4 linked regions of the Homo sapiens genome follow. The protein of the gene in region 1 interacts with the protein of each later gene in a pairwise test. Each region holds a gene or a part of one and is shown in the gene's direction. Other genes may lie near its edges.

Region 1 (7,856 bases):
TGGGGCCAAATGGCACCATCACCCTCTTCATTATAGTATGGGAAGGAGTTTAGACCTTGGATGCTTGCCTCCATCCTTTGTACCACATCTCATGCATTCCTTCTGCACTCTCTAGAGACTAATCCATGTCATTCATCGTAAGTCTCCTTCCCCAGCCATTCCGCATTGCTTCCCCACCCTCCTTTTGAGTATCACCTGGGTAGGAAACTGGCCTTGCGGTATCATCCCGACAAGAATCCAGGGAATGCTCAAGCAGCAGAAATATTCAAAGAGATCAACGCAGCTCATGCCATACTGAGCGACTCTAAGAAGCGGAAAATTTACGACCAGCATGGCTCATTGGGAATATATCTGTATGATCACTTTGGTGAAGAAGGCGTCAGATACTATTTTATTCTGAATAGTTGTTGGTTCAAGGTACACAATTCTCCAGGTCCTTTAAGAATAAGGAAAGAAGGGTGACCTTCCTTTCCTTATGACAAATGCTTCTGTTGTCTCATTTTCTGGGTGCCAGGAGGATTGAGGGAGGGAAGCTTGAGCAGTCATATAGAAAACTGCTGGACTGAGGCCATTCTCGCCTACCTTTTAGACACTTGTCATCCTGTGTACTCTGCTCACTTGTTGCTGTTTCTGTTGTTGCTGCTGTTTTTGCTGTGGAGCACTTAAACCACCACCTGAGCAGGATAGTGGGAGAAAATATCAGCAGAATGTCCAGAGTCAGCCTCCAAGGTCAGGTGAGAACTGCAAGCAGGGACTGTGAGGTAAGAAATGTCTGGATTGGGAATGAAAGAAATGATTGGGGTTGGGCACAATGGCTCATGCCTGTAATCCCAGCACTTTGGGAGGGTGAGGCGGGTGGATCACTTGAGGTCAGGAGTTGGAGACAAGCCTGGCCAACATGGTAAAACCCTGTCTCTACTAAAAATACAAAAATTAGCTGGGCATGGTGGCACCCACCTGTAGTCCCAGCTACTTGGGAGGCTGAGGAGGCAGAAGAATCGCTTGAACCCGGAAGGCAGAGGTTGCAGTGAGCTGAGATCGCGCCACTGCACTCCAGCCTGGGAGACAGAGCAAGACTCCATCTCAAAAAAAAAAAAAAAAAAAAAAAAAGAAAAGAAAAGAAAGAGGCTGGGCATGGTGGCTCAAACCTGTAATCCCAGCACTTTGGGAGGCCGAGGCGGGCGGATCACGAGGTCAGGAGTTTGAGACCAGCCTGACCAACATGGTGAAACCCTGTCTCTACTAAAAATACAAAAATTAGCCAGGTGTGGTGGCGGGCGCCTGTAACCCCAGCTACTTAGGAGGCTGAGGCAGGAGAATTGCTTGAACCCGGGAGACGGAAGTTTCCGTGAGCCAAGATCATGCCACTGCACTCCAGCTTGGGCAACAGAGTGAGACTCCATCTCAAAAAAAAAAAAAAAAAAGAAAGAAAGAAATGGTTGAGGGTGAGAAAGACCTGTGAAAATGGCAGGTTAATCCCTAAATATGACAATTTCAAGTCTTCAAGTCTGGCACTGGGACAAAGTGAAGAAAAAAAAAAGATCAATATGTTTCTGTGCATCACACGACAAACTGACAGTTTGAAGGTAGTAGTGTCAGCTCCTGTTAAGCTAAGGAATGGGGTGGGAGAGTATGTCTAGAGAGGACAGTTAGGTTAAGACAGATTTGAGGATGCAATTTTTGTTGTTGTTGTTTTGTTGTTGTTGGTGGTGGTGGTGTTGAGATGTAGTCTCAGTCTGTCACCCAGGCTGGATGGAGTGCAGTGGTGCGATCTCAGCTCATTGCAACCTCTGCCTCCCGGGTTCAAGCGATTCTACTGCCTCAGCCTCCTGAGTAGCTGGGATTACTAAAAAATTAGCTGGCTAATTTTTTATTTTTAGTAGAGTCAGGGTTTCGCCATGTTGGCCAGTCTGGTCTCCAACTCCTGACCTCAAGTGATCCACCTGCCTTGGCCTCCCAAAGTGTTGGGTTTATAGGCATGAGCCACTGTGCCTGGCGGGATGCAATTTTTTCCATCTACTCAAAGGAAAGGGCCAGTTGCAGTGGCTTGTGCCTGTAATCCCAGCACTTTGGGGAGCCAAGGTGGGCAGATCACTTGAGCTCAGGAGTTTGAGACCAGCCTCAGCAACATCATGAAACCCAGTATCTACAAAAAAAAAAAAAAAAATACAGAAGTCAGCCGGTCATGGCAGTGCACACCTGTAGTCTCAGCTACAGGGGAGGCTGAGGTGGGAGGATTATTTGAGTCTGGGAGGTTGAGGTTACAGTGAGCTGTGATCATGCCACTGCACTCCAGCCTGGGTGACAGAGTGAGACCCTGTATCAAAAAAGAAGAAGAAGAAGAAGGAAAGGAGGAGGAGGGGGAGGGGAAGAGGAAGAGGAAGAAAAGAAAAGGAAAGTCTGAGATCATTCCCCCCCAAATGAACTTTTATAAGCTGATTGAACTTGACACCAGCGCCACCTGGTGATGCTAATGAGTAACTGCAAGGTAACGGTTTTCTCATCAGTACACTACGAAAAGTTACTAAACGTTTGTATATGTAAACATATATATAATTCCATCATAGGAGCCAAATGTGATTTTAGAAGCGAGGAAAATAGCGAAGATGATTTTTAAGAGATGAAGAAGGATGAGGTATGTAAACCGAAAGGCAGCAACAGTTATCAGATAAGAAAAGCATGTAAGCTAACGTCAGATGAGTCATTAGTAGAAAGTTTACATCCTTATAGTATGGACTATGTGTTTATATCCTTACATGTAGGGGTTTGCTTTAAGTTCTAGGTAATTATTCCTTCTGATTAATAAAGCGCCACCTTCTTCCGCCACTAGGTGCTGACCCAGTGAGGGTGCCTTCTGCTGCCCAGTCCCCTGGACACATTGAAGAGAGGAGCAAGTAGCCCTGTCCTGACATTGACCCTGATTTGACCCCTCTTCTTATAAGGATCTCAAGAATCTCTTCAGAAGCACTGATGACGTTGATCCCAGTAAGGACATCACCTCTACCCTTGGTACCACAACTCTGTATGGGGTTGCCCAGCTACTCTTCCTTTCAGTTGCAGTCCCAATTTTACTCCGTCAGAAAGCAGCCCTCCCCTCCCTCCCCTTATGAGGTCTCAGGCAGTGGTGGCAGATTTTTCCTGAAGAGTCTTTTTCCTGTGTCTGCCTTGTTATTGGAACCAATGCCAGCTGGTAGGATCCCTGAGCCCCTTGCGATATCACCACCAAGAGCCTGATAACTGAGCAGGGTGGATCCTGTCCCTGGAGCTGCTGCACCCATTAATTCTCCCTTGTTGCAACTCTGTGTACCAAGAACCCCTAGCATCAGCCTCATTCCTAAGCCAATAACGCCTGTATGGAGTTGGTTTCATCTTCTGGTGCCCACGGCCATTGGCATTGCCAGCCTCATTCCATGCCACTATGAGTCAACTCAGGAAAACTGCGAGTGCATTTGAGGCTTAGGGGTAGTCATTCCATCTTTAGATTATCCTTGGACTTCAGCTACCAGCACAGCATGCATTAGCCTTGGTCCTGTAGGTTAACTGAAGTTCAAACATCAGTGCCAGCTTGCCTCCATCCTTTTCACATATTATGCAGGCCAATTGACATATAATTTGTTCTTAAAAATAGGGGCATGAAATATGTGATCTGGAAAAGATTGTACTTTCTGGACTCTTTTCCCACTCTTGCCTCTTTGTGCTGCTGTTTCGTATCCTCCTCACACCGTGTATTTCCCACCCACTCAGGGTCACAGCCTACTAATTCCTCAAACTTCTCTCCCTGGACTAGGAGAAAGGCTAAAGAATGTCAGTAAATAAAAGAGCTTTCATCCAATCCCAAGGCATATATTATGCCCAAAAAAGACAAATTGTGTCTGGGGTAGAGAAAAAAGGCCTAAAGAAATTGCTTCTTGGCCTTTTGCCTAAGATCAAGTGGAGAAGACTTGTAGGAGAAAAAGAAGACCAGTGCTCACAAGTGGGGCAAGCCTGGCTTGGAGAGTAGGAGTCCTGGACAACTGTGGAGCTGGGTCAGAGGCTTCCCGGAGCCTTGTGATTATGACTTTGTCAGTGCTCTAAAATTTCCCTGGAGATTGATTCCCTGGGTGCCCAAAATAGGTCCCTGGCATTCAGGTCCTTTCTGCCCAGCTCACCTTCTCCCAATTTCCTAACAAATTTGAGTCCTTGGAGTGGCTCCAGGGATGTGTTCACGGACCAGAATCCCACATTTCCTCGGGGGCATGCTCATAGGTAGGTCCAGGCCTTGGCACAACAGTCATTTCTAGCCTCTTGAGCTTCTTTTCCTAGGGTGATATAAGAAAAGGCCAGGGAAGAACAAAAATGAGCCAGAGGTGTTGGACAAGAGGCTTGATGTAGTCCCTGGAGCTGCTGTTCTGAATCACACAGTCTTGAGGAGGAGGACCAGGGTCACTGGCTGAGCCTGTGGAGGAGGCAACCGCTACTGACTCTAAGTCTGGCAAGATCTTTCCTCCCACCCTGAGCTATGTATGGGTGCCTCTCACACAGGCAGATTTAGATTCTGTGTCACTGTCCTGGAAGAAGGGCCCAAGCCAGAACAGGGGTCCCGGGCTGAGAGGAGCCTTCAGAGTGAGAGGGCAGCACCTTTGCTGACCCACCTTTCACTGTAAGCAGTGGCACTCACCCCTGCCCTTGCTCAAGGGAGTCACCCATTCCTGAGTGAGTCAGGGTCACTCACTCCATGACAGCTGTGGCTCGCCTTACATGAGCTAAATTGGGAATTGGAATGTCATGCAGATGCCCCTTGTCTCCCAACCCCCACAGTAAAATTAATCTGCTCTCTGGGGAGTAAGGGACAAACAGTGCTACCCACAGAGTGAACAAGAGAGAGTCATTTGGGAAACAAAAGGAGAATTTTACAGAGAGAGAGGGATAGCTAAAACTACGTGAGCCTGGCGAGGGTGCAGAGCAGAAAGTAGAGACTGTCCGAAGACTGCTATCTGGGACGAGACAAGTTGTTAAAGGGACAGGAGAGAAAGCAGAGCTATTTCAAGAGTGAGCCACAGAAGGGAATCCAGAGGCCATCTAAGCGAGGAAGGGTCTACAGGCAGTGAGTGAAGGCCAGGAGCAGGGCCCAGGCCAGGCACGACCACCGAGGGGATGAACTTCACAGTGGGTTTCAAGCCGCTGCTAGGGGATGCACACAGCATGGACAACCTGGAGAAGCAGCTCATCTGCCCCATCTGCCTGGAGATGTTCTCCAAACCAGTGGTGATCCTGCCCTGCCAACACAACCTGTGCCGCAAATGTGCCAACGACGTCTTCCAGGTGGGTGCCAGGGACGGGGCAGGGCCAGGTAAAGCAATGCAGACCTGTGGGGGACTGATCAGGTCAGAGCTGAGACCCCAGAAGGTGATGGATAGAGTGCTCTCTGAGGTGGGTGGTGGCTGTTGTGGCTGGAGAGCAGAAGGGCTGGGGTCCAAGCAAATCCCAGAGCAAGCATGAGTCAGCAGCTGCCCTGCAGGCTGGCAGGTACAGCCTGTGCATAGACGGCAGCTGGAGTGCTGGGATCTACCAAGGAAAGTAGACCCTGTGGAAACTGGGAGGGAGGGTATCCCACACCGGGCTTTATAAGAGCCTGTGCCAGACTCTGCATTCCAGTTTGGAGTTTCAGACTTCGAGAGCATTGTGGAAAATACGGAGAAAAGATTAATGAGATAATGAAACGTTAAAAAACAAACAAACAAAACCCGACCCTGTGAGAAAGCTCCATAATGGCAGTAAAACTATTTGTATTTAAGGAAAGTTGAAGGCATCCATTGTGGGTGACAGAGTTAGACATAGTGGGCAGGAGACTGGGAACTCTCCCCAACTTGAGTTCATACCTGTTACCCTCCAGATTGTTCAGTAAAGAGGCCTACTGGTTAAAAGCTACTGAGGTCACTTGACAAGCAGGGAGAAGGCAAAGAAATTTACTTCTCAGAAGTCCAGCCAGTTTTGTTTTATCTGTGGTCATGGGGCCAAGCAGAGCTAATCAAATTCACAGATACTAGTATAGCCACTGGTTTAGAAATAAAAGCAGCATATACCAGAATGGATTATAAGTGGGCTTTTTTTTTTTTTCCTGTGCTACTGGGGAGGTTCTAGTAGGCTATAAAATGGAACAGAGATCAGGGAGAGTGAGGGGCAAAGGCACACACACACACACGCGCGCACACACACACACACACACACACACACACACACACACGGCCTTGCCGTTAAGTAAAAGCCCTGAATATGGCCAGGTGCAGTGGCTCACGCCTGTAATCCCAACACTTTGGGAAGCTGAGGCCAGCAGATCACGAGGTCAGGAGTTCAAGACCAGCTTGGCCAATATGGTAAAACCCCATCTCTACCAAAAATACAAAAATTAGCCGGGCGTGGTTGCAGGCGCCTGTAGTCCCAGCTACTCAGGAGGCTGAGGCAGGAGAATCACTTGAACCCAGGAGGTGGAGGTTGCCTTGAGCCGAGATCATGCCACTGCACTCTGACCTGGGCGACAGAGCAAGACTCCATCTCAAAAAAACAAAAACAAAAACAAACCCCGAATAGACCAGAGCTGGCTGGTTTAGTATGTGTGTCAGTGACATGGAACATCCCAAACAAGTATTCTTCATCTGTGTCAGAAATGATGAGGAAATGTGTTAAACACAAGTGATTTTTAACCTAACCAAGAAAATACTTCCCTTTTTAAGTTCCTTGGGGCAGCTTGTTTTGGAAAGGAATGGGCTGGCTAGGTCAGGCCATCCCACAATGTACCCTGTGACCCACACCTTGTGTGTCTGCTCTGTGCCACCTTCACTGAAGACCAGCACTCTGTGGTCTCTCCTGCCATCTTCCCATTGAGACCCATTCCCTCTCCTATTCTTTATGTGTCCAAACCTGCCATTATTCAGCTCCAGAGTATCTCAGAGCCAGTAGATTTTCCCTCTCGGGGGGCCTAGACCAAATGCTGTGCCTCCTCGTCCTGGGCATGAAGTCCTACATGAGAGGCAATGCTTTGCCCACCATCTTGGTTTTTCCTTGGTCTAAGTAACTCTGAACATCCTTCAGGCTGAGATGCCTAGGAGGGAAATGGCAGAAAGATTTTGCCATCCTTTCTCATGAACTTACAGTGAAACATCCTCACACTGGAACTTGAAATGTGTGAAAGCAAAGAGAAGTTTTGAAAGCTAAGGTGATGTGTCCTGTAGAAAAGTGGTCAGAAGGGCCAAGTGCATTCCTGGGTCCCTCTGTCATCTGGCAGAGGAATAGGCCCCATACATGGAGGCTAGAATGTGTTTAAGTGACCTGCTTATTTAAGTCAACTCTCTCTATCCAAGCACACTGTTTCAGTTCCAGAAAGCTCTAGAATACGGATCTGGGCTCAGAGAGACCTTGGAATGGCTTGGGGCAAATCCTGTACAGAATATTTGGAGATAACATGATACCCAGGGCTTTGGGGTGGCTCTGTGGATCTGGAGTGGTGTATCTTTTGAGGTGCAAAGCACCCTTGGGCCCTCCAAGGAGGAAGAGTGAACAGCTCATCCCTTGCTGCTTATTTGGGAGGGCCTGGTGGGAGGCTGACCCAGTTCTTCAGCTGCACTTAGATCTGTGTATCTCAATATATCTCAGTAGATCTCCCTCTGAAAGATGAGCATATTTAGTTTTTTCGCACATTGCCTCCACATTTTGACAACTGTAGGCATAATCAGATTGTCTGTTTTCTAAGTATGGGGCAAGAATAGGACTTTTGGAAAGAATAGGACTTTTCCTCTACCTTCAAACCACTTAGGAAGAATACCCTTAGAGCATTGCCTAGAAAGTTAACGGTTATCAAAGTGATACCAGTATATCACTTA
Region 2 (8,028 bases), on another chromosome or scaffold:
TCTCGGCTCACTGCAACCTCAGCCTCCCAAACTGTTGGGACTACAGGCGTGAGCCACTGCGCCTGGCCTAAATGGGTGATTTTTATAGTACATGAATTATATCTTTTTTTATTTTCAAGATGGAGTCTCGCTTTGTCACCTAGGCTGGAGAGCAGTGGCATAATCTTGGCTCACTGCAACCTCTGCCTCCTGGGTTCAAGCAAGCCTCCCAAAGTGCTGGAATTACAGGCGTGAGCCACTGTGCCTAGCTGCCCAGCCTATGAATTATATCTTTTTTTTTTTTTTGAGACAGAGTCTCACTCTGTCGCCCAGGCTGGAGTGCAGTGGCGCCATCTGGGCTCACTGCAAGCTTCACCTCCTGGGTTCACGCCATTCTCCTGCCTCAGCCTCCCGAGTAGCAGGGACTACAGGCGCCCGCCACCAAGCCCGGCTAATTTTTTGTATTTTTAGTAAAGACGGGGTTTCACCGTGTTAGCCAGGATGGTCTCAATCTCCTGACCTCGTGATCTGCCCGCCTTGGCCTCCCAAAGTGCTGGGAATACAGGCATGAGCCACCACACCTGGCCTTTTTTTCTTTTTGAAATGGAGTCTCGCTCTGTCACCCAGGCTGGAGTGCAGTGGCACAATCTCGGCTCACTGCAAGCTCCACCTCCTGGGTTCTAGCCATTCTCCTGCCTCAGCCTCCCGAGTAGCTGGGACAACAGGTGCCCGCCATCACGCCCAGCTGATTTTTTGTGTTTTTAGTAGAGACAGGGTTTCACCGTGTTAGCCAGAATGGTCTCGATCTCCTCACCTCATGATCTGCCTGCCTCAGCCTCCCAAAGTGCTGGAATTACAGGTGTGAGCCACTGCGCCCAGCCGAATTATATCTTAATAAAGCTATTACACACATAAAAGGCAGGGACTATTGCCATCATTAGTAGAGCTAACACTTACTGGGCATGGACGGTGAGCGAATCCTGTGTTTTACCTGTCTTAACATATTTGGTACTCCTACTAAGCCTCTAAGTTAGGTACAATGATCCCCATTTTACAGATGAGAAAACTGAGGCACAGAAAGATGAAGAAACTTGCTCAAAGTCGCACTGTAGTAAGTTGTGCAACTGGACCTCTGACCATGCAGCCTAGCTCCAGAGCCCCAGCACTTAACCCAGATATTGTACTCACCCTAGGAAGCAGCCCTTAGGCTCCAAGCTGGGTTAGGACCACACCCCTTGTGGTCCTGTAGCAGCTCACACTCCCCCTCCTGTAATTCACATTGCACTGACTACAATCCTGTTTCACTCCTAGGCCGCCAGCTCTGTGAGGGCAGGAGCTCTGTGAGGTCCACAAGGGTCAAGTTCAAAAGTCAGTTGTCGGCCGGGCGCGGTGGCTCATGCCTGTAATCCCAGCACTTTGGGAGGCCAAGGTGGGTGGATCACAAGGTCAGGAGATCGAGACCATCCTGGCTAACACGGTGAAACCCCATCTCTACTAAAAATACTAAAAAGTTAGCCGGGCATGGTGGCGGGCGCCTGTAGTCCCAGCTACTCAGGAGGCTGAAGCAGGAGAATGGCATGAACCCGGGAGGCGGAGCTTGCAGTGAGCCGAGATTGCGCCACTGCACTCCAGCCTGGGCAACAGAGCGAGATTCCGTCTCAAAAAAAAAAAAAAAAAGTCAGTTGTCAGATGGCCAGGCGTGGTGGCGCACACCCATAATCCCAGCACTTTGGGAGGTTGAGGCAGGTGGATCACATGAGGCCAGGAGTTCGATACTAGCCTTGCCAACATGGCAAAACTCCATCTTTAGTAAAAGTATGAAAATTAGCCAGGCATGGTGGTGCACACCTGTAATCCCAGCTACTCAGGAGGCTGAGGTGGGAGAATCAAATGAACCGGGAGGTGGAGGTTGCAGTGAGCTGAGATGGTGCCACCGCACTCCAGCCTGGGCAACAGAGCAGAACAAGACCCTGGCTTTTATGTGCAAAAGCTATTAGAGGGGGCAACAGAAGCAATGGGGAACCCATCAAAGGATGAGGTTCTTACACAGGCTAGGGAGAGGTGGGGTGGCCTGGAGCAGTGTGGAGGCCTAAGTATGTTTTGGACACATAGCAGATAAGATGTCCTGATGACAGGCCTCAGCATAGGAGGGTTCCCAGACCCTCAGGTCTCCAGAGAAGAGCTGATTCTCTGCTCCTGAAGTGGGAAGTTCCTTGTCACTATGTACCTCCTGAATTATTGACTGAGTCTAAACCAAGAGGGAGGCTGGTACCTTAGCCAAGCAGCCATTCAGTTTGCTCCTTGAGTTAAGACTGGTAGACCCTGGAATGTAGCCAGGCCCACCCTTGGTTGGCTCAGAGCCCAGTGAGAGAGAAAACAGAAGGCCACAGAGAACACCAGGGCAAGTGATAGAGATTCAAGGGGGTGAGCCTTGGGCTGGGGGATCCTCCTGCTTACCTCCTGAGAAGGCCTTCCCCCAGGCCTCCTGAGATGGCAACTCTCTTTCTCTGTGTGTGTGTATTCTAGAAAACTACAGCTTCCCTCCCTGGCCCCATGAGAAAGCCAAGCCGGACCAGAAAACACAGAGTCACCAGAAGTCTTTATCTGTTGCCTAAGAAACATGCTGAGGGCTGAAAACTGCTCCGGGTCCAAGAGAAAGGCCAGCTGTCTGCTCTCCTCGCAAGCAAGTAGTACAGGAAGTGGAGGGCCCATTCACCACCCAAAACGCGTAGTCTAAGCAAACCCAGCTTCAACATTGTCCCCTCCAGCCTCCTTCCATCCAGATCACCACCTGTAAGCCCTTCTTCTCATAATCCCCTAGGATTTACTGGGCTGTTATTACATGCCAAAGACTTTTCTAAATGCTTTTTTTGTATTAACTCGGTTACTCTTCAGGACAATCCTCCAGATTAGCTTCTATTATCATCCCCCATTTAACACAGAAGAAACAGAGACACAAAAAGTAACATGCATGAAGTCTTAGTGCCATTAAGTGGCAAAGAGGGGGTTTGAACTCTAGAGCTCATACCCCTAATCACTTTACAGAGTCCACCACTACCAGGGTCCCAGCTTCAGAAGCCATCTTATCTCATTCCCTCTCACCATTGCTCTTTCCACGAAGCATTCTGCGAATGCCATCCAGGCAACGCTTGCATGCTCATTTCCACCTGAGTGCAGGGGATGTGCCTGATACCCATGTGAACTCTTCTCCCTAAAAAGCCCCAGTGTCTGGTCCATACCTGCCGAATGACTGGGTGAACTTGTTTTTTTTTTTTTTTTTTTTGAGAGAGGGTCTCACTCTGTCACCCAGCCTGGAGTGCAGTGGAGCGATCCAACTCACTGCAGCCTCCACCTCCTGGACTCAAGCAATCCTCCTGCTTTGGCCTCCCCAGTAGCTGGGACTACAGGAGTGCACCATGACGCCCAGCTAATTTTTGTATATTTTATAGAGGAGGGTTTTCGCCATGTTGCTCAGGCTGCTCTCAAACTCATGGACTTGAGCAATCTACCTACTTTGGTGTCCCAAAGTGCTGGGATTACAGGCGTGAGCCACTGAGCCTGGCCTGGATAAACACTTAACAGAATCAAAGGAAGCCAGTTCCCAGAGCCATGCTGGTGGCTCTACCTTTCCAGATCTTTCTCATTGTGCCAGGTCACCTCCAGACCAGCTGGCCTTTTATTTATTATTATTATTTTTTTGAGACGGAGTCTCACTCTGTTGCCCAGGCTAGAGTGCAGTGGCGCGATCTCGGCTAACTGCAAGCTCCGCCTCCCGGGTTCACGCCATTCTCCTGCCTCTGCCTCCCAAGTAGCTGGGACTACAGGCGCCCACCACCACGCCCGGCTAATTTTTTGTATTTTTTAGTAGAGACAGGATTTAACTGTGTTAGCCAGGATGGTCTCGATCTCCTGACCTGGTGATCCACCCACCTCGGCCTCCCAAAGTGCTGGGATTACAGGCATGAGCCACCACACCCAGTGGTATAGAAAGCTACCCAGGATGGTATAGGGCCTGAGCTGCTGTTTGCTTTGTCAAGATTATGTTGTTTCCCAAGCAAAAACTGCCTGTTTTCCCAGGAACTCCCTCAGCCTAGCTCCTCAGTCTCTGGGGCACCTGAGGTTCAGGACAACAAGACAGGCAGTTAGAATCTGTCAGGGCAAGCTGGACAGCTGTACTCTAGGCTCTGCCTCCAGGTCTGTGTGTAACTCTGAGAACATGCCTTTCACTCTCTGGGGTTCACTTTCTGCATCTGTAAAATGGGAGTAGGGTTCGCCTAATAGATTCGCCTGGTCCCTCCCAGAGGCTTCTGGACTGTCTGCAGAAAAGTTTACCCTGTTCTTACCTGCCACCCCTTGCAGGGATTTGCGCACCGCGTCCACACAGCTCTGACAGGTCATCTGCACCGCGAACTCCAACTGCAAGGGCGGCAGGGACCAACCGATGATCGCTGGGGAAGTGCCTTGGTATGACTTTGTTTCACCACCTACCCTATGACCACCGCAAGGGTCTGGGAACAAGCCCCACTTAACCCCTCTTCAAGCACCTTCTTCATGATCTCTCATGACCATTCCAGGACCATGGGAGTCACCCCCCAACACTCACGCAGGGCCCCTGCTACCCTCGCACCCTAGTTTCATCCCATGGCCCCAGGCCCCAACCCAAGTGCCCACTCCTTCTCCTCTTCCCAAGGTAACGATCATCCCAGGGGCCGAGGCTCTCTGCCCGGCGAGGCTCCACACGAAGCCTCGACCCTCACCGTGCAGAGGGTCCCCTGGTTCCCCGAATCCGAAGCCATTCTGGACCCAGTCACCACCCCGAGACGCAGAACTCCTCCGGCGCAGGAGCACCAACCAGCGCGGCGTCGCGGGGACTGAGCCTCTAAAGCCACCCTTAACTCCTCCTCCTAGTGCGTGCGCACGCAAGGCCCTGCTTCGTCAGCCACCGGGTGGCGGCCGCGCAGGCGCACTCGGGCCGTCGGGCTCCTGGTTGCCTTAGTAACCCCTCGGCTTTCTGTTCCTGGACGGTGGCGGCCGCCGGCTCTATGATGGAGCCCCCGAAGCCCGAGCCTGAGCTCCAGCGGTTTTACCACCGGCTGCTGCGTCCGCTGTCGCTCTTCCCCACTAGGACGACGTCCCCAGAGCCTCAGAAGCGCCCCCCGCAGGAGGGCCGGATTCTGCAGTCCTTCCCTCTGGCGAAGCTGACGGTGGCGTCGCTGTGCAGCCAGGTGGCCAAGCTGCTGGCCGGCAGCGGGATAGCAGCGGGAGTGCCTCCTGAGGCCCGACTACGTCTCATCAAGGTCATCCTGGACGAGCTGAAGTGCAGCTGGCGGGAGCCGCCCGCCGAACTTAGTCTGAGCCACAAAAACAACCAGAAGCTGCGGAAGCGGCTCGAGGCCTACGTGCTGCTGAGCAGCGAGCAGCTCTTCTTGCGCTACCTGCACCTGCTGGTGACCATGTCGACTCCCAGGGGGGTCTTCACTGAATCAGCCACCCTCACCCGGTTGGCCGCCAGCCTCGCCAGGGACTGCACACTCTTCCTTACTAGTCCCAACGTCTACCGTGGCCTGCTTGCCGACTTCCAGGCCCTGCTGAGGGCAGAGCAGGCCTCTGGGGATGTGGACAAGCTGCACCCTGTCTGCCCCGCTGGGACGTTCAAGCTGTGCCCTATCCCCTGGCCTCACAGCACTGGCTTCGCCCAAGTGCAGTGCTCTAACCTCAACCTGAACTACCTCATCCAACTCAGCCGTCCACCAGAGTTTCTCAATGAGCCAGGAAGGATGGATCCAGTGAAGGAATTGAAGTCCATCCCTCGGTTGAAGAGGAAAAAGCCTTTCCACTGGCTGCCCTCCATAGGAAAGAAGAGAGAAATCGACATCAGTTCCTCACAGATGGTGTCGCTGCCCAGCTATCCTGTGGCCCCCACCAGCAGGGCTTCCCCCTCGCCTTTCTGCCCTGAGCTCCGGAGAGGCCAATCCATGCCCTCCCTGCGTGAGGGCTGGAGGCTGGCAGATGAGTTGGGCCTTCCTCCACTCCCATCTCGCCCCTTAACCCCGCTGGTCTTGGCTACAGAGAGCAAACCAGAGCTGACTGGGCTCATCGTGGCTGAGGATCTGAAGCAGTTGATAAAGAAGATGAAGTTGGAGGGGACTCGCTACCCACCACTGGACTCAGGCCTGCCTCCTCTCCTGGGGGTTGTGACCCGTCACCCAGCTGCAGGGCATCGCCTGGAGGAGCTGGAGAAGATGTTGAGGAACCTCCAGGAGGAAGAAGCCTCTGGGCAGTGGGACCCCCAGCCCCCCAAATCCTTTCCACTTCACCCACAGCCAGTGACCATTACTTTGAAGCTTAGAAATGAGGTCGTGGTCCAGGCGGCTGCCGTACGGGTCTCTGATAGAAACTTCTTAGACTCTTTCCACATTGAGGGGGCCGGAGCCCTGTATAACCATCTGGCTGGTGAACTGGATCCCAAAGCCATTGAAAAAATGGATATTGATAACTTTGTTGGCAGTACTACCAGGGAGGTCTACAAGGAGTTGATGAGCCATGTCTCTTCTGACCACTTACATTTTGATCAAGGGCCCCTAGTTGAGCCTGCAGCAGATAAAGACTGGTCGACCTTCCTGTCCTCAGCCTTTCTACGTCAAGAAAAACAGCCTCAAATCATCAACCCTGAGCTGGTTGGACTTTACTCCCAGAGAGCAAACACTTTACAGTCCAATACTAAGAAGATGCCCTCCCTCCCATCACTCCAAGCTACCAAAAGCTGGGAGAAGTGGTCAAACAAGGCCTCCTTGATGAACTCATGGAAAACCACCTTGTCTGTGGATGACTACTTCAAGTACCTCACCAACCATGAAACAGATTTCCTTCATGTCATCTTTCAAATGCATGAAGAAGAGGTTCCTGTGGAGATTGTGGCCCCTGCCAGAGAGTCCCTAGAGATTCAGCACCCTCCCCCATTGCTAGAAGATGAAGAACCAGACTTTGTGCCAGGAGAGTGGGATTGGAACACTGTGCTAGAGCACAGGCTAGGAGCTGGGAAGACACCCCACCTGGGAGAACCCCACAAAATTCTGAGCCTGCAGAAGCATCTGGAACAACTGTGGTCTGTGCTTGAGGTCCCTGACAAGGACCAGGTGGACATGACCATTAAATATAGCTCCAAAGCCCGCCTGAGGCAGCTGCCTTCATTGGTGAATGCCTGGGAGCGGGCCCTGAAGCCCATTCAGCTGCGGGAGGCATTGCTGGCGAGACTAGAGTGGTTTGAGGGACAAGCTTCCAATCCCAACCGCTTCTTCAAAAAGACCAACTTGAGCTCCAGTCACTTCCTGGAGGAGAATCAGGTCCGAAGCCATCTCCACAGGAAGCTCAACTTAATGGAGTCTTCTTTGGTTTCCCTCCTGGAGGAGATAGAGTTAATCTTTGGCGAGCCAGTGATCTTCAAGGGGCGGCCCTACCTGGACAAGATGAAGAGTGACAAAGTGGAGATGCTCTATTGGCTGCAACAGCAGCGGCGGGTTCGCCACCTGGTCTCGGCCCTGAAGGATCCCCACCAGTCAACCCTGTTCAGGAGCTCAGCAGCCAGCCTTTAGTAGCTCCTGGGAATACCCCTATTACTCCTTGACCAGGCCCAGTGCCCTCAAATGCCTCCCTCACCCCTAAATGGCCAGCAGCTCATCTAGACCTCTTTACTGCTTTGGAAGAAGAAATATTTGTCTATATCTGGGAGTGGAGGGTTCAGGAACATTATGCTTCCAACTATGAAGGGATTGAGACTAAAACTATTGTTTTCTTAGTGAAATTCTCATGAAAGAATCCCCAAGCCTAGTAGTCCCATTATGTCAAGCCTTGCACAATACAAGCCAAATCTCCTATATCAAAAGAACTGAGACCTTGGAGTTAATTGTAGTGGGAAGGGTCAGAGGCAAAGGTGATCTTTGGAACAACTCACTTTAGCATTCCTATCACACTACATTAAATTGTCACCTCTTTTAGTTCTCAAACACTATTAGGAAGAAGAAAATTAATTAAATTTTTACCAGTTACGTG
Region 3 (8,139 bases), on another chromosome or scaffold:
AATGCCCATTATATGCAGGTACTATGCTAGACAATTTCAAAAATATTTTATTTTAGTTACTATTTCATCAGTCTTATTTTTTTTTATTTTTATTTTTTTAGAGACAAGATCTCACTATGTTGCCCAGGCTGGAGTGCAGTAGCTATTCATAGGCACAATGATCACACACATAGCCTCAAATTCCTGGGCTCAAGTATCCTCCTGCCTCAACTTCCCAAATAGCTGGGACTACAAGTATGCACCACCATGTCCAGGTAATCACTGTCTTTTTTTACCTCTAAGATTTATAAAGTTTTCTAAGACACCACAGATAGAAGCTATCTTTTGTAGTAAAGAAGTGCAGCTCTTGCTTTCCACTAATTTTTATTGCTGCTCTTCTACCAGAAGGTAGATTATCCATTGTTATTTACATTAATTATTTACATTGTTTACATTGTTGAAACATTGAGATGCTAGGTTGACAGATGATACAAAATATGTGGTACCTTTGCTTAGAAACTTTTATTCTAAAAAGTTAATGGACAAACGTTAACTTTTCTGAGAGATTAAAATACTGCTTCCGTTAAATAAGCATTTTTGTGTGTAGGCTGTTTTTTTTTGTTTGTTTGTTTGTTTGTTTTGAGACGGAGTCTTGCTCTTTCGCCCAGGCTGGAGTGCAGTGGCACTATCTCGGCTCACTGCAATCTCCGCCTCCCGGGTTCACACGATTCTCCTGCCTTAGCCTCCCGAGTAGCTGGGACCACAAGCGCCCGCCACTACACCCGGCTAATTTTTGGTATTTTTAGGAGAGACAGGGTGTCACCGTGTTAGCCAGGATGGTCTCAATCTCCTGACCTCGTGATCCACCCACCTCGGCCTCCCAAAGTGCTGGGATTACAGGCATGAGCCATCGTGCCTGGCCTGTTTTTTTTTTTTTTTTAAAGTTTGATTGGAAGCAAGAAGGAGGAGGAATATTATCAGAGAAGGGCAGCTTTGAGGAAAGACTGCTGTAAAGATGTAAAGATCCTTATTTTTTTTTTTGAGATGGAGTTTTGCTCTTTTTGCCCAGGCTGGAGTGCAATGGTGCGATCTCGGCTCACTGCAATGTCTGCCTCCCGGGTTCAAGCGATTCTCCTGCCTCAGCCCCCTGAGTAGCTGGGATTACAGGCACATGCCACCACCCTGGCTAATTTTGTATTTTTAGTAGAGACAGCGTTTCTCAATGTTGGTCAGGCTGGTCTTGAACTCCCAACTTCAGGTGATCCACCTGCCTCAACCTCCCAAAGTGCTGGGATTACAGGCGTGAGCCACCGCGCCCAGCTGTAAAGATTCTTTGACAAATCTCTTATAAATTTATAAAATCTAAAATCTTAGAATTGGAAAGAACTTACAGATAATTTAGTTTAGCCTTGGCCTCATTTTACAGAGAAGGAAACCAGACCTAGCAGAGGATATGTTTTGCTCAAAGATAAAACTCAGGTTTCTGAACTCCTAGATGACAACTAATACATTATTAATTAAAAATAACTATATATAACTTCTGTTTGATAATGCCTTTAGGTAGTAACCTCTAAAATAGCCACATCAGCATTTTTCTAAGCCAGTTCCTGAATACCCACTTTGTGTCTGATTCCTCCAATCCAGTGCAGTATACATTTTACATAGACTTGGTCTGGCAATGAGGAAAGAGCATTCATTTTCAATCTTGGGTCTCAGCATAATTTGGTATATAACACTGCAATCGACTGTACCCTGTAAAGCTTTAAGGGGATGGTATTCCAAGAATTAGTATTAGTCTGAAAAAGCAAGTGTTTTGTTTCTCTTTCACTTTTTTACACATCCGTGGTTCCTGGGGGTAAAATAAATGTTTTCACTCTAATGGGTGCACTGGAGGGAGGCATTCTAAATGGAAGGAAGGCATATACAAAAGCCTAGAGGCTTCCTGAGACATCAGGAGGTGTTTGGGGCCCTTCAAGCAGTTGGTATGACTAGAGCACTTTGGCCCCACAGAGATCTGAGTCAAGAGCCAGACCTGCTCTACTCTGCATACCTTGAACTTTAGCTTGAAGGCAGTGGGGAGCTATTGAAGGATTTATAGCAGAGGAATTACAGAAATATAGTTGCTTTTAATTATTATTAATATTATTATTATTTGAGACAGAGTCTCACTCTGTCACCCAGTCTGGAGTGCAGTGGCATGATCTGAGCTTACTGCAACTGCCGCCTCCCAGGTGGGTTCAAGTGATTATCCTGCCTCAGCCTCCCCAGTAGCTGGGATTACAGGTGTGCACCACCACACCCGGCTAATTTTTGTATTTTTAGTAGAGATGGGGGTTTTGCCATGTTGGCCAGGCTGGTCTCGAACTCCTGACCTCAAGTGATCCACCCGCCTTGGCTTCCCTCAGTGCTGGGATTACAGGTATGAGCCACTATGCCTGGCTGCTTTTAATTATTTTGATCACACAGATAATATATGAATACATTTTAATATAAACTCAACTATTAAATCCAAAGTCAAAGTTCTTCACCACTCCCTCCATCCCCAGTTCCTCCTCCGAGGTAATCACTTAGCTGCTTGGTACATACCTCTCCAAACATTTTAAAAAGTGCATTCACAGCTGGGCGCAGTGGCTCACGCCTGTAATCCCAGCACTTTGGGAGGCCGAGGCGGGAGGATCACGAAGTCAAGAGATCGAGACCATCCTGGCCAACATGGTGAAACCCCGTCTCTACTAAAAATACAAAAATTAGCTGGGTGTGGTGGCAGGCACCTGTAGACCCAGCTACTCGGGAGGCTGAGGCAGGAGAATAGCTTGAATCCGGGAGGCGGAGGTTGCAATGAGCTGAGATGTGCCACTGCAATCCAGCCTGGCAACAGAGCAAGACTCCGTCTCAAAAAAAAAAAAAAGTGCATTCACTTATGTATACACATGCATAGGGATATTTCTGGATCTGGGATTATTTTGTGTGTTTTCAAACAAATATTATCCTGTGAAAAGATAAATTAAGAGGGACAGAGCCCGGGTTTGGGTAATTCTGAGAGCCAGCTGGCCATCTGTTTACTTTGCTTGGTGTTCACAGCATATTTTGTGAACATTCCAGTTTTTCTGTGAGATTCTCACAGATGAATTGGTGCTGTGGGAACCATCTGGCAGACCCCAGCCACAACAGCTGCAAATCCTTACAGCCATGTCTACCAGGTCAGCCTGCACTGGGACCTGCCTGAATCAAAAGTTTGCTGCCTGAATTTGTGCATTACAATTCAGCTGGAATTCACAGATATTAAATGTTCTTTGTTGGGATTAGGAAAGGGACAATGTGCTTGCCATGTGTTATGGAACAACTGAGGACACAAACATGACCATGGTTTCCCTTCCTGAAAGAAGTAAAACATTTATTATTTTTGGATTGGTCTACATTGTAATAAAAGTTGATATGTAACAAAACATATCTACATAGTGATTTTTTTTTATTGTCAATTGTCAAAGTTTACTACCACACTAACAGAACAATGACTTTTAACATACGGGTATATCCATAGATTAGGTCTCATTAAAGCTGTTACTAAATGGGGTCTAGGGATGGGGTCTAAGGAATACAGCTTTAGGAACAAATGTGGAAATGGGGATAGATTTATTTATTCCACTCATTAATTCATTCAATATAGTTTTTTGTTGGGAGCAGACAAGGTCTCTCGCTTTGTCACCTAGGATGTGGTGCAGTGGATTCGACATCTGGGCTTAACAGATTCTCCCATCTCAGCCTCCTGAGTAGCGGGGATTACAGGCATGCGCCACCACGCCCGGCTAATTTTTGTATTTTTTTGTACAGACAGGGTCTCCCAGGTTGCCCAGGCTAGTCTCGAACTCCTGGGCTCAATCAAGCGATCCGTCCACCTTGGCCTCCCAAAGTGCTGGGATTACAATCAATATACATTTAGTACCTATTATTTATGGGCTAATCATGTGCTAATGGACTGGTGGAATCACTCTATTCCCTTTGCTCTAGATTGAAGCTTCGAGACCACCTGGGAAAATAGACAACTAATGTAATGAATATCCATAACCAGTTTCAGAGACAACCAGTAGTTTGCAAGTTATTCCACCCATTAAACGATTCCAAATGTTGGAGAAAAGGCCCCCAACTTAAAATACTCCACGGAAACGTGCTCTATACATCTATGTGGTGCTTACAATAAAAGATGAATTCCTGCGACTGAGTTGCAACCCCGAAAGAAATGATTTAGAGAAAAAAAGAAAGAAAGAAAAAGGTAAGTATGTCACCGTGCTTTTGGAAAATGCTTTTGGGATTTGTCCAAGTTCTAGAGTGGAACCCAAGGCTCCTGGGCCAGGGGACAGAAGTGATAACTAAGTAGGATGCAATTTAGTTGGAATCTTCCCTGACCTTAATCCCATAAACAGTTGCCTAGGTAAAGGCAAAGTCTACAGGCCCTAAAACAGGGTACAAGCTTTCCCTAAAACATATTAGAGAGAGGCACTTTCAACAGGACCTTGTTGCAGGATCCCTAAAAAAAAAATTCAAAACAAGGAGATTTACATGTTATTCACCTTATCATAATTTCAGAAATATTTTACTAATAAAAAAGGAGTCGTGAAGTCTGGAACACCTTAAGACGTGACGTCTGCAACACCTTAAGAACAATGATTACAAATGTATTAATATTCTCTCTGATTTTAAGGGAAAAGTGATGAAGGAACAGGAAGATGGGTGGGCGTATGTTCCCAGAAATCCCCAGAACGTCAAAAAGGAAGCGGAGGCTTTGAGTGGAGGACTACGGAGAGCGTCTACGGTTGTGCCAAAGGAAAAAAAATGTTCCTAAGAAAAGAGTATACAAAGTTGTGTTCATCAAAGTCTGGAACCCAAAGGTGTCCCTCCAAAGCTGTACACGACAGAGAAAACGCGAACTGAAAGAAGAAGCAGGTCCCAAGGGGCCAGGCGCCTCCTCCACCTCCTCCTCCTCCTAGGTACGTAGGGCAGAACTAAGGCTGACCCAGACGTAACTCAGCCCTCTCCTCACGCCAGCCGCAGCCAAGCATCCCACGGAGCCTCCCCCCGCGCCCGTCGCCGTGGCGACCGCCGGGGCCACGCAGCACCGCCCCTTCCTCGCGACGTGGCCCCGCCCTCTGAGAACCCGGAAGCGGGAGTCTCGCGCCAGCTGAGCGGCGGTCGGGCGGGGGGAGCGCGGCGGCCCAAGCTCGCTCGGCCACGCGCCCCGCCCCCTCAGAGGCCGGCCTCCCGCACGCACCGCGCAGCCTGCTGTGCCCGTGGGTCCCGAGTGCTCCGCCGCCCGCCCCGACCCGGGCCCAGCCGCCTCCACGGCCCGCGCTCGTACTGGAGCGAAGAGCGGCCTCCTGAAGGAGGGGAAGGGACGTGGGGGCGGCCACGGCAGGTGAGGGTGGGCGAAGCCCTGGGAAGCGGCTGGGTGTGCGGTATGCGGGGTTGTAGGTGTGTGTGTGTGGCGCGTGGCTGCCTTGGTTGGTGTGACTTTGTGAGTGTGTTCTGAGTGGGCCGGTCCATGTGACCACGCACGTGATCACGTGCCCTTGTGAGTGTGTGTCTGGGGCCGAATCTGGGCTGTGGGGTGGTCGGTGTGCTTGTGACCCTGCCTTTGTGTGGCTGTCACCGGTGGGACTGGCGGGGAGCTGTGTGTGAGTCTCCAGCGGGAGGTGGGGGCGGCACAGGGCTTAACCGGGGCATCCTCCTGTAAACCCATCCTGGGGCTACACGACTGCAGCCCAGGAACATTTCTTTCTTTCTTTCTTTCTTTTTTTTTTTCTCAGCAAACTTTTAAGAACTGTGAGCAGAGGCCAGTAATTTTGGAGACAGGACCTCGGCCTGAAAGTGATAGATGTCTTTGTTGTTACTGAGTGTGGGCCAGGTGTAAGGTTTGTAAACGGGGGATGAGGAACAGAGCGGGACCGGAGTGTCTCATTTTTCCTCTTCTCGTTTTCCTGGGGAGTTATAAGTTAGACATTTATGCTGCTTCCTTTGTCTCCACCTACACTGGTTCAGCTCCTTTTGGCACAAAGATTCAACAAATTAAGGAGTAACTTTTTTTTTTTTTTTTTTTTTGAGACGGAGTCTCGCTCCGTCGCCCAGGCTGGAGTGCAGTGGCGCCATCCCAGCTCACTGCAAGCTCTGTCTGCTGGGTTTACGCCATTCTCCTGCCTCAGCCTCCCGAGTAGCTGGCACTACAGGCTCCCGCCACCACGCCCGGCTAATTTTTTGTATTTTTAGTAGAGACGGGGTTTCACCGTGTTAGCCAGGATGGCCTCGATCTCCTGACCTCGTGATCCGCCCGCCTCGGCCTCCCAAAGGGCTGAGATTACAGGCGTGAGCCATCGCGGCTGGCCACTGAGGAGTAACTTAATAGCTGTGTCCAAATTCCAAAAGCTTTTTTCCCAAGAGCATGAGAAGAGATGTCACAGATGTCAGGTAGGCACCTTTTCCTCCTGTAAGGTTTAGAGATAATGCAATGAAGAAAAGAGGGATAGATCTCCCCTGAAGAGATCTAAGAAAAGGATAGCTGTGTACTTCTGTGGTGAGGGATGGAGACGTGCATTAAAAAGCCAGTTGCATCTCCCAGAGACTCTCAGCTTCTAATATTTTGTTATGGCTAGTATTTATAAGCACAGATTTTCCACAATGCACATCAACTATAGATTGAAATAAAGTAGCAGAAACCTCTGACTAATTATGCTGGTTATGTGACTTAAACATTGATAAAGGTGATTTTGTTGACTTTAAAGTGGCAGGTTCTGTTGAAGCCATGAGGGATAGGGGCATAGTCACAACTGGCAGGTTTTTTTGTTTGTTTGTTTGTTTGTTTTTTGAGACAGAGTCTCACTCTGTCGCCCAGGCTGGAGTGCAGTGGTGTGATCTCAGCTCACTGCAACCTCCGCCACCCAGGTTCAAGCAATTCTCCTGCCTCAGCCTCCTAAGTAGCTGGGATTACAGGAGCCCATCACCGCGCCCAGCTAATTTGTTTTTGTTGTTGTTGCTGTTTTGTTTGTTTTTTTGAGATGGAGTTTCGCTCTCGTTGCCCAGGCTGGAGTGCAATGGCGTGATCTCGGCTCACCGCAACCTCTGCCTCCCGGGTTCAAGTGATTCTTCTGCCTCAGCTTCCTGCGTAGCTGGGATTACAGGCATGTGCCACCACGCCTAGCTAATTTTGTATTTTTAGTAGAGACGGGGCTGCACCATGTTGGCCAGGCTGGTCTCGAACTCCTGACCTCAGGTGATCCACCTGCCTCAGCCTCCCAAAGTGCTGGGATTATAGGCGTGAGCCACTGCACCCAGCCACAACTGGCAGTTTTTATTGTCCAGCAGCACAAGGGCCAGAGAAGACAGGGAGTCCACAGCACACCCTGAAGAGGGCTTTCCTTAGGCAAGATTAAGGCTAATATTGTGGCTCTTTTCCCACCAGCATGAACAGGTGCTTTTGTTTTTGTGAAGAACAAAATCATGAGAGATAAAATCAGTTTTGAGCTCATGGTCCACATTCTTTCTTATTCAGTACTGACCAGTTTGGTCACAATCTCAGTTAACCTTTGCCATATACAGAATATTCCTCTTATGATTTGGAAAAGTATACCCCTTTGGTGGATGAAAGAGAGCTAGGAGAACAAACTTTCCTATTCATACCACTCACAGCTGTTTTCCCTTTGCAGCAGTGATCTTTTTTTCACTTAGACGTCAGTTGGTCAGATGCAACATTTGGTATCCATTTTACCTTTCATGTACTGCCAAACTAGCACAAGTGTTAAAATTACTTGTCTCTACAAAAATTTAGTCACAGCGGAGTGGAATCTCTCCATCTTGTAAGATTACTTTTAACACGTTGGCATCCTGAGGTGGTTGTGAATTATTCTGAAGACTGTTGGTAAGGAACATCTTTCTATTTACTGCTATGGGAAAGAAGAGGATGACCGCGTGAATATGTGTGCCTGTGTATGTGTGTATTTGTATGGTGGTTTGGTTTGTGCATTGCAACTGATTTCAAAGCTATGAATGATTTATCCCATTTGGTGACTCTAGAAGCACACTTTCTGGCTTTAGTTAGCTAAGGTGTTTTATAAATCTATTGAGTAGATGTTATTTGCTAAACATGTTTTTATTTTCCCTCCTTTAGAATAGATT
Region 4 (7,423 bases), on another chromosome or scaffold:
ATTGCTTCTTCAGAATTTCTTTGGCTGATGGGGCTGGCTATAAGGCAGAAGACTGGGTTCCTAATCCACCTCTTCCACAAGCTCTCTGTGGCGAGTTGCTCAGACCCTCTCAACCTCAGGGTCGTCCTCTGTGAACAAGGAAGTTGGCCTGATAACCTGCAGTGACCCTCCCACTCTGCCAGTCGGTGATTCTGTGAAGTGGTGTAAAGGGCTGTGAGCCTCAGGCATAAACAGACAGCAGGGAGAGACTTAGTATACTCCACTCTGCCAAGAGAAGATACACTGGCAAGCTGCAGTGGGATGAAAATCGGAAAACTGCCTGCCCCAAGAGCTGCCCCACAGCCTGATGTGCAGCTTAAGCAGAATTCTCTGAATTATCCTCATTACATTTATAATGAAAATGCCTATTAGGAAACTTACATGAGTCTGTGCTGTTTCCAAGGCATTTTTTTCCTATCTAAAAAATGTCCCTGTTTGTTGTTGTTGTTTTTGAGACAGGGTCTCACTCTGTTGCCCAGGCTGGAGTGCAGTGGTGCAATCTTGGCTCACTGTAACCTCTGCCTCCCGGGTTCAAGCCATTCTCCTGCCTCAGCCTGCTGAGTAGCTGGGATTACAAGCATGTGCCACCGCACCCAGCTATTTTTTATTTTTAGTAGAGATGGGGTTTCACCATGTTGGCCAGGCTGGTCTTGAACTCCTGACCTCAAGTGATCTGCCCGCCTTGACCTCCTAAAGTGCTGGGATTACAGGCATGTGCCACTGCACCCAGCCTCCTACATCACCTTCTGATTGGCCCAGACATGTAAGTTTGGCTCTGCTGTGCCTCACTGAACAGAGTCATCAAGCTGGAGGACCCTGATGGCTCAGTCGAACTTTCTGTAGCTGGGCCATGATACATTTTCTAGAGCTGGGAGAAGGATGGCATGTGGACAGGTGAGACTGGCCAGCAAGCCTCTCCTGTTGACCCCACAGGAAGTCCACACCTGAAGGGGACCTTTGTGGGGCTTCCAGAGGGGCAGATCCAGGATCTGGACACTGGTCACATGCCTTGGGTCCCAGGCTTTGTGCCTGAATTGCCACAGAGCCATCAGGATGCCAGGGGTTCTGTTGACCCTTGCTATGTGAGGGCAGTTGGGCCTCAGTGCCCAGGTGACCTGGTTGGATGAGGGCTAGAATACAGCAGGCCTTTGGTCTGGGAGAGGGCCAGTGGGGCAGTGGACTGGTCACAGTTTTGGTCACCAGTCCCAGGATCCAGGTGTCAGGGGCTCCCTCCAGTGGCCCTTTTATGACAACTAAAGGAAGTCCTATTGTTCACAGCGAGGGTTCTCAGCTTGAAGTTCCTTGTGCCTCTTTTAGGGAAGACACTCAGATGGTATATCGAGTATAAAATGACTTAGCGATTCTTCTCCTCAAAATGTGTCATTTATGATCCTTTTGTAGTTCATGAGTGTGATGATTGTGTGTTCATACGCTTGTGTGAGATGTGCCACCCTTGAACCTTGTTACGACATTGGCACATTACCCGTCTGATCTGAAAAAAAAAGTATCATTTATTTACTTACCTAAAATCTATGGAGTGCTTACTATGTGCCAAGTGCTTTTTAAAGCACTTGGAATACCTGACTGCATGAACAGAAACACAAATCTCTGAGCTTGCAGTCTGATGGGAATAGGGGAGATACATAATAATAATCACAATAAATAGGTAAGTTCTAAAGTTTCACTGTTTAATACGGTAACTGCTACTCAAATGTGGCTATTTAATTAAAATTAGAATTACTTCTTCAGGCACCCTAGCCACATTTCAAGTGTTCAGTAGCTGTATTTGTCTCATCATTACCATACCGGGCAGCACAAATATGGAACATTTCAATAATTGCAGAAAGTGCTATTGGACAGCACTAATCTAGAATATGTTAAAAGGCAAAATGTGCTATGAAAAAAAATTAGAGATTTTTAAAGCATGTTGCAGGGGTGGAGAAGGTATTACAATTTTTTTTTTTTTTGAGACAGTGACTCGCTCTATTGCTCAGGCTGGAGTGCAATGGTGCGGTCTCAGCTTACTGCAACCTCTGTCTCCCGGGTTCAAGCAATTCTCCTGCCTTAGCCTCTCTAGTAGTTGGGATTACAGGCGCATGCCACCATGCTTGGCCAATTTTTGTAATTTTTGTAGAGACAAGGTTTCACAAGGGTGGTCTCGAACTCCTGACCTCAGATGATCCACCTGCCTTGGCCTCCCTAAGTACTGGAATTGCAGGGATGAGCCACCGCACCTGGCTGGAATTACAATTTTAAAGAGTAATTGTGGTGCACCTAATTTAGAAGCTTTTGAACAAAGATTATCAGGAGGTAAGTGAATGAGTCTTGGAAATACTTAGGAGAAGAGAATTCCAGGGCAGCGGACAAGCAATGCAGAGGCAGAAGCATACCAATTTGTGGAAGTGTTTGGAGTGCACCAGAGAAGAGAAGCAGAAAAGAGGTAATGGGGGCAGATCTCAAAAGCCTCATAGATCACTGTGTTATTCTACAGAAATCTATGAGGACATAAATATATGAGTACAAAAATGTTCTTGCAGCATTGTTTGTAAGCAGCAAAAAATTAGAGGTGAGGCCAGGCACAGTGACTCACGCTTGTAATCCCTGCACTTTGGGAGGCTGAGGCGGGCAGATCACCTGAGGTCAAGAGTTCGAGACCAGCCTGGCCAACATGGTAAAACCCCATCTCTACTAAAAATACAAAAATTAGCCGGGCGTGGTGGCACATGCCTATAATCCCAGCTGCTCAGGAGGCTGAGGCAGGAGAATTACATGAACCCGGGAGGCAGAGGTTGCGGTGAGCCAAGATTGCGCCACTGTACTCCAGCCTGGGCGACAGAGCGAGACCCCATCTCAAAAAAAAAAAAAAATTAGAGGTGACATACATGATTATTATTGGGGAGTGGTGACATGTTCATGCAGTGGTTGGTGAGGATGAGGGTGAAAGGATGAGGTTATAACCATGCATAGAAAGCATCCTGGAGGCCAGGCACAGTGGCTCACATCTGTAATCCCAGCCCTTTGGGAGGCCGAGGCGAGAGGATTGCCTGAGCCCAGGAGTGTGATACCAGCATGGGCAACATAGTAGGACCCCTGTCTCTACAAAAATTAGCTGGGCATGGCAGTGTGTACCTGTAGCATGACCTACTCAGGAGGCTGAGGTGAGAGGATTGCTTGAGCCCAGGAGGTTGAGGCTTCAGTGAGCCATGATGGTGACACTGCACTCCAGCCTGGAGGACAGAGCAAGAGCCTTTCTCTAAAAAGAAAGCATTCTGGTGCTGGGTATGGTGGCTCATGCCTGTAATCCTAGCACTGTGAGAGGCTGAGGTGGGTGCATCACCTGAGGTCCGGAGTTCGAGACCAGCCTGGCCAACATGGTGAAAACCTGTCTCTACTAAAATTATAAAAATTAGCCAGGTGTGGTGGCGGTCACCTGTAATCCCAGCTACTCAGGAGGCTGAGCCAAGAGAATCACTTGAACCCGGGAGGCGGAGGTTGCAGTGAGCTGAGACCATGCCATTGCACTCCAGCCCGGGCGACAAGAGCAAAACTCTGTCTCAAAAAAAAAAGAAAGCATTCTGGAGTCTGTAGGCTGCACCAAAAGGGCCATTATCCTGGTAGACTGGAAGGAGCCTGGGGCCCCTGGGAGTTGGGGTTTGAGGTGGCTGTGTGGCTTGTGCTGTCTCTTCTACTGGCAGTAGCAAAGGCCAGGGGACTGTTCAGGTCCTCCCAGACCCTAAACTCACCCCAGTTAGGGAAGAGTCACCAGTCGGGAGGGAATCACCAGAAGCTGAAAGCATACCCTGTGGATCCAGGAATGGCCAGGATGTCTGGGCACAGAATGAGGAATTGTACTTTTGCTGTGGAAGAGACAGGGTAGCTTCTCTGATGATCCTTCCTGTCGGCCCCCACCCTACCATGTTTCCCGGCAGAGAATGGTCAAGAACCTGGAGAAGGAACTAGCACTACTCAAGCAGGAGCTGGCTATCCATGACAGCCTGGTAAGAGGCTAGAGGCAAAGAAGGAGGGCAGAGGTGCTGGGGTAGGGGGTGACTAGAGGGACTGGGGCTAGGGGCAGACAGCATCATGGGTCAAGGCCAATGGTGGGCGGGGTTGGGGGGCAGGCTCAGTGGCAGGAAAGGGGCAGCAGCAAGGGTCCATGAGGACAGGGGTTGGGAGCAGAGTCCTCCAACGGTCCTGAGGGGCCTCGAGGCAGAGGCAGCGCATGCCTCCCGTCCTCGCCTTTCTCATGCTGCAGAGTCTGCTGGGACTCAGCCAGCAGAGCCTCTGTCTGGAGTAGCAGGACCCATGTCTGAGGGTCTTTCCTTTCCTCCCCGACCCCATTATCCCTCTCTGACCCAAGCACCTGGCCTGTTGTGTCAGGCCCTCTGGCAGGACCCGATGATGAAGGGAAGGAGCCAGCTTGGGCAGCCAGGGCCTGTGCCCAGCCTCCCCACTTTGCCTCTCAGAATGGCCCCTGCCACTCCCCTGTGGGCTCAGGTTCTTGTTGCTTATCCACATGTTCTTCATCCTCCTTCAAGACCAACCGCACCTTTGTGACCTATGACCCCATGGATGAAATCCAGATTGCTGAGATCAACTCCCAGGTGCGGAGGTACCTGGAGGGGACACTGGACGAGATCGACGTAAGGAACCCCTCTGTGACCACTATGCTCAGCCAGCCTGGGCCTCCCAGTCCTGGGCACACCCCAACGCATGCTCTGCTGGCCTCAGAGCCTCATGTGAATGGGTGCAGTGGGTGGAGGGTGGTGCTGGACTCTTGATGTCAGGGTCCCTTCAGCTCATCTCAGGGGCACAAGCACAGGCCCTAGAGCCAGGCTTTCTAGGATTGAATCCCAGCTCAGCTGCCTCTTTGCTGAGTGACCTTGGCAAAATACTCAACCTCGTGTACTTCAGTGGCCTCACCTGCCTAGTGGGGAGGGAAACAGAGTGGGGATTAACTGAGCTGCTGCACCTGGGGTGCTTGACTGTGTCCGCAGAATGAAGCTGATGAAGGATGGTGGTCATGCTGGTTGTCTACAAGGTAGACCCCAGGGCCCATGTTGGAGTGGGCCAAGGAGGGGGAAACCACCCCACAAGGAAGGGTCCTCAGGGGGAAGGCTGCATCCTGTTTTCACAGTGCAGTCCATCAAACCCCTCTTCTTGGAGACATGGGCAGACCCCCCTGGCTGTTACTGTGGGCAGCTCCGAGAAGCAGGCCTGGGACAACTAAGGGATGGACTCTTCTGGCCTTCACAGGAGGGGCAGTCCCAAATTAACCCTTGATCAAGGGGAATGCTGTGGGCTTTAGGCTGGGGGGAGGCCAGTAACCTTCCTCCAGCCTCGTGTGTGTGTCTGTGCCCATGCAGACAGGACCATAAATGGGCTCCATCTGAAGACAGCAGGCAGAACCTTTTGGAAGTAAGAGAAAGCTGAGAAGTACATTTTATTAAAAAAAAAAAAAAAACCTTTAGAAGGTATTTTCAAGGTATAGAATCATTTCATTTTATAGAGGTCTCCACTTCGAAAAGGTGGTTTTTATAGCCTCAGCAAATACTTAGTTTTAAAATTATTAATCAGGTGTTTCTCTGCTCTGGAGGAGGGCTTGGCTGCCACTTCGCTGAGAGGCTGTGTGCACACGTCCTCTTCTCGAGACAGATGGTCCAGGGGTCAGCCAAGGGGTCTTGATTTCTCTACTAACATAGATGCCCCCTGGTCCCTCGAGGTGCCCTTGGTCTAACCTCTGCCTTGCTGTCTTCCCTCCAGATAATCAGCCTTAGACAGATCAAGGAGGTGTTCAACCAGTTCCGGGTGGTTCTGAGGTGAGAGACCCCCACCCCTACCTCATTCCTACATCAGGCTGCCATTTTCATCTCCTGCCATCTGGGCACTTGCCTCCAAGAGCTCCTCTTCTTGCTTGTGGATGAAGAGCCAAATCAGAGTCCTTGGGGGCATGCCTGGGTCCCTGGTGGATATTCAGTGAGTTCATTAATTGGACAGGAGGTGTTTATGGAGTGCCAGCTCTGAGAGTGCCCAGAGCAGGGCATTGTGAATATTCACCTTGTGAATATTGCAACACACACTCCCACCTCAGGAGGCATTTGTGGTTTATTTGGGTGCAAACATACCCATAGTCTGAGCAGCTTATGCTAGGTGGTGTCACTAAAGCTGGTCATGTGATTCCAAGTGGCCTCTTAGAGACAGAACCTAAGACAGAACCCCACATGGTCCCAAGTGAAGCTTACGGTCCTTATCAAGTGTCATCTTGGAGCAGACACACATGACATAAGGTAGCCCTTGTGGGTATGGGGGTCGGACAGTGGGTATATGCAATGGGGCAGGGGGAAGTGAGTCCTTTGTCCTTTTGTCTGGTCTGGTTCATGATGAAGGTGTGGCCCCACACAAGGGGCCTCACCCATATGACTTTTAACCCCAGTACTTGGTTCTTGCCCCAGTGGATTCAGCATGGCCCCAGGTACAAGCTGTTCTCTCTTGCTGTCTCCCAAGCCAACAGGAACAGGAAGTGGAGTCCACTTTGCGCAGGAAGTACACCCTCATTGACAGGAATGACTTTGCAGCCATTTCTGCTATCCAGAAGGTAAGCATAGTTGCTACTTGCCGACAGCACTCACCTCAGATTTCCCATCCTCAGACCTTTGCAGAGCCAGCAAGTATTAATGCATTAAACCAGAGCTAGGATTGCAACAGATAAAGGTAACACCAGAATGAACACAGGTGACCTGTGTTAAGAGTAAACCACTTTTGAATTAAAAATAATTTCCATAAGGTAGAGACATGGATAATAATATTAAAGACGATTTCCTGGAATTAGGTTGGAAATAAGCTTTAAGATCCCCAGAGTATGGAATGAGGTGCCATACTGGTGAGGGGGTGCATGTGGAAAGTGGACATTTGGCAGAGTGGTCAGGGACCGCTCTACAGGGGACAGCCTGAGGCTGGCATCAGCAGCTGTCAAACCTTGGTGTGTATGGTGAACATGTCCACCCTGAGCCTTGGGCCATATACATGTGGGTCCCCAAGGGGTCCAAGCCCTTAATCTAACTCACAGACCTTTGGCTGGCCTCTCTATGTAGGCGGGGCTTGTGGATGTTGATGGCCACCTAGTGGGTGAGCCTGAAGGACAAAACTTTGGACTCGGAGTCGCCCCTTTCTCTACCAAACCTGGGAAGAAAGCCAAGTCCAAGAAGACATTCAAAGAGCCACTCAGGTGAGTGACCTTGCCGCTCTGCCTCCTCAGCAGCTGGCCCTCCTCGGTGGGTGCATGGGAGGATGTGCACTGTTCCCACTTTCCCCCTGGTGTCTCAGCTACTGGGTTGGCACAATGGACGTCACTGCTGCCAATACTAGCAAGTCTGTGGGGCCCGGG

The links.
Region 2: the proteins of TRIM54 (region 1) and CCDC87 interact in binary tests that used the Homo sapiens proteins (3 or more experiments, as listed by UniProt).
Region 3: the proteins of TRIM54 (region 1) and SPG21 interact in binary tests that used the Homo sapiens proteins (3 or more experiments, as listed by UniProt).
Region 4: the proteins of TRIM54 (region 1) and KIF9 interact in binary tests that used the Homo sapiens proteins (3 or more experiments, as listed by UniProt).

Annotation. Positions count from the first base shown.
Region 1 is NC_000002.12:27,277,599-27,285,454, forward strand, and holds the start of TRIM54 (tripartite motif-containing protein 54), read left to right. Parts: upstream 1-4,830; 5' UTR 4,831-5,133; coding exon 5,134-5,301; intron 5,302-7,856. Other genes in the region: DNAJC5G (dnaJ homolog subfamily C member 5G), read left to right, coding at 156-417, 590-734, 2,568-2,617. UniProt on the Homo sapiens protein: May bind and stabilize microtubules during myotubes formation.
Region 2 is NC_000011.10:66,590,009-66,598,036, reverse strand, and holds CCDC87 (coiled-coil domain-containing protein 87), read left to right. Parts: upstream 1-4,973; 5' UTR 4,974-5,021; coding exon 5,022-7,571; 3' UTR 7,572-7,861; downstream 7,862-8,028. Other genes in the region: CCS (copper chaperone for superoxide dismutase), read right to left, coding at 4,323-4,395, 4,737-4,775. UniProt on the Homo sapiens protein: Plays a role in spermatogenesis, where it is important for normal sperm head morphology. Also required for the acrosome reaction and thus normal male fertility.
Region 3 is NC_000015.10:64,986,915-64,995,053, reverse strand, and holds the start of SPG21 (maspardin), read left to right. Parts: upstream 1-5,139; 5' UTR 5,140-5,389; intron 5,390-5,583; exon of another isoform or gene 5,584-5,648; intron 5,649-8,139. UniProt on the Homo sapiens protein: May play a role as a negative regulatory factor in CD4-dependent T-cell activation.
Region 4 is NC_000003.12:47,244,632-47,252,054, reverse strand, and holds part of KIF9 (kinesin-like protein KIF9), read left to right. Parts: intron 1-1,428; exon of another isoform or gene 1,429-1,538; intron 1,539-3,968; coding exon 3,969-4,037; intron 4,038-4,577; coding exon 4,578-4,682; intron 4,683-5,802; coding exon 5,803-5,858; intron 5,859-6,543; coding exon 6,544-6,634; intron 6,635-7,130; coding exon 7,131-7,264; intron 7,265-7,423. UniProt on the Homo sapiens protein: Essential for normal male fertility and for progressive motility of spermatozoa.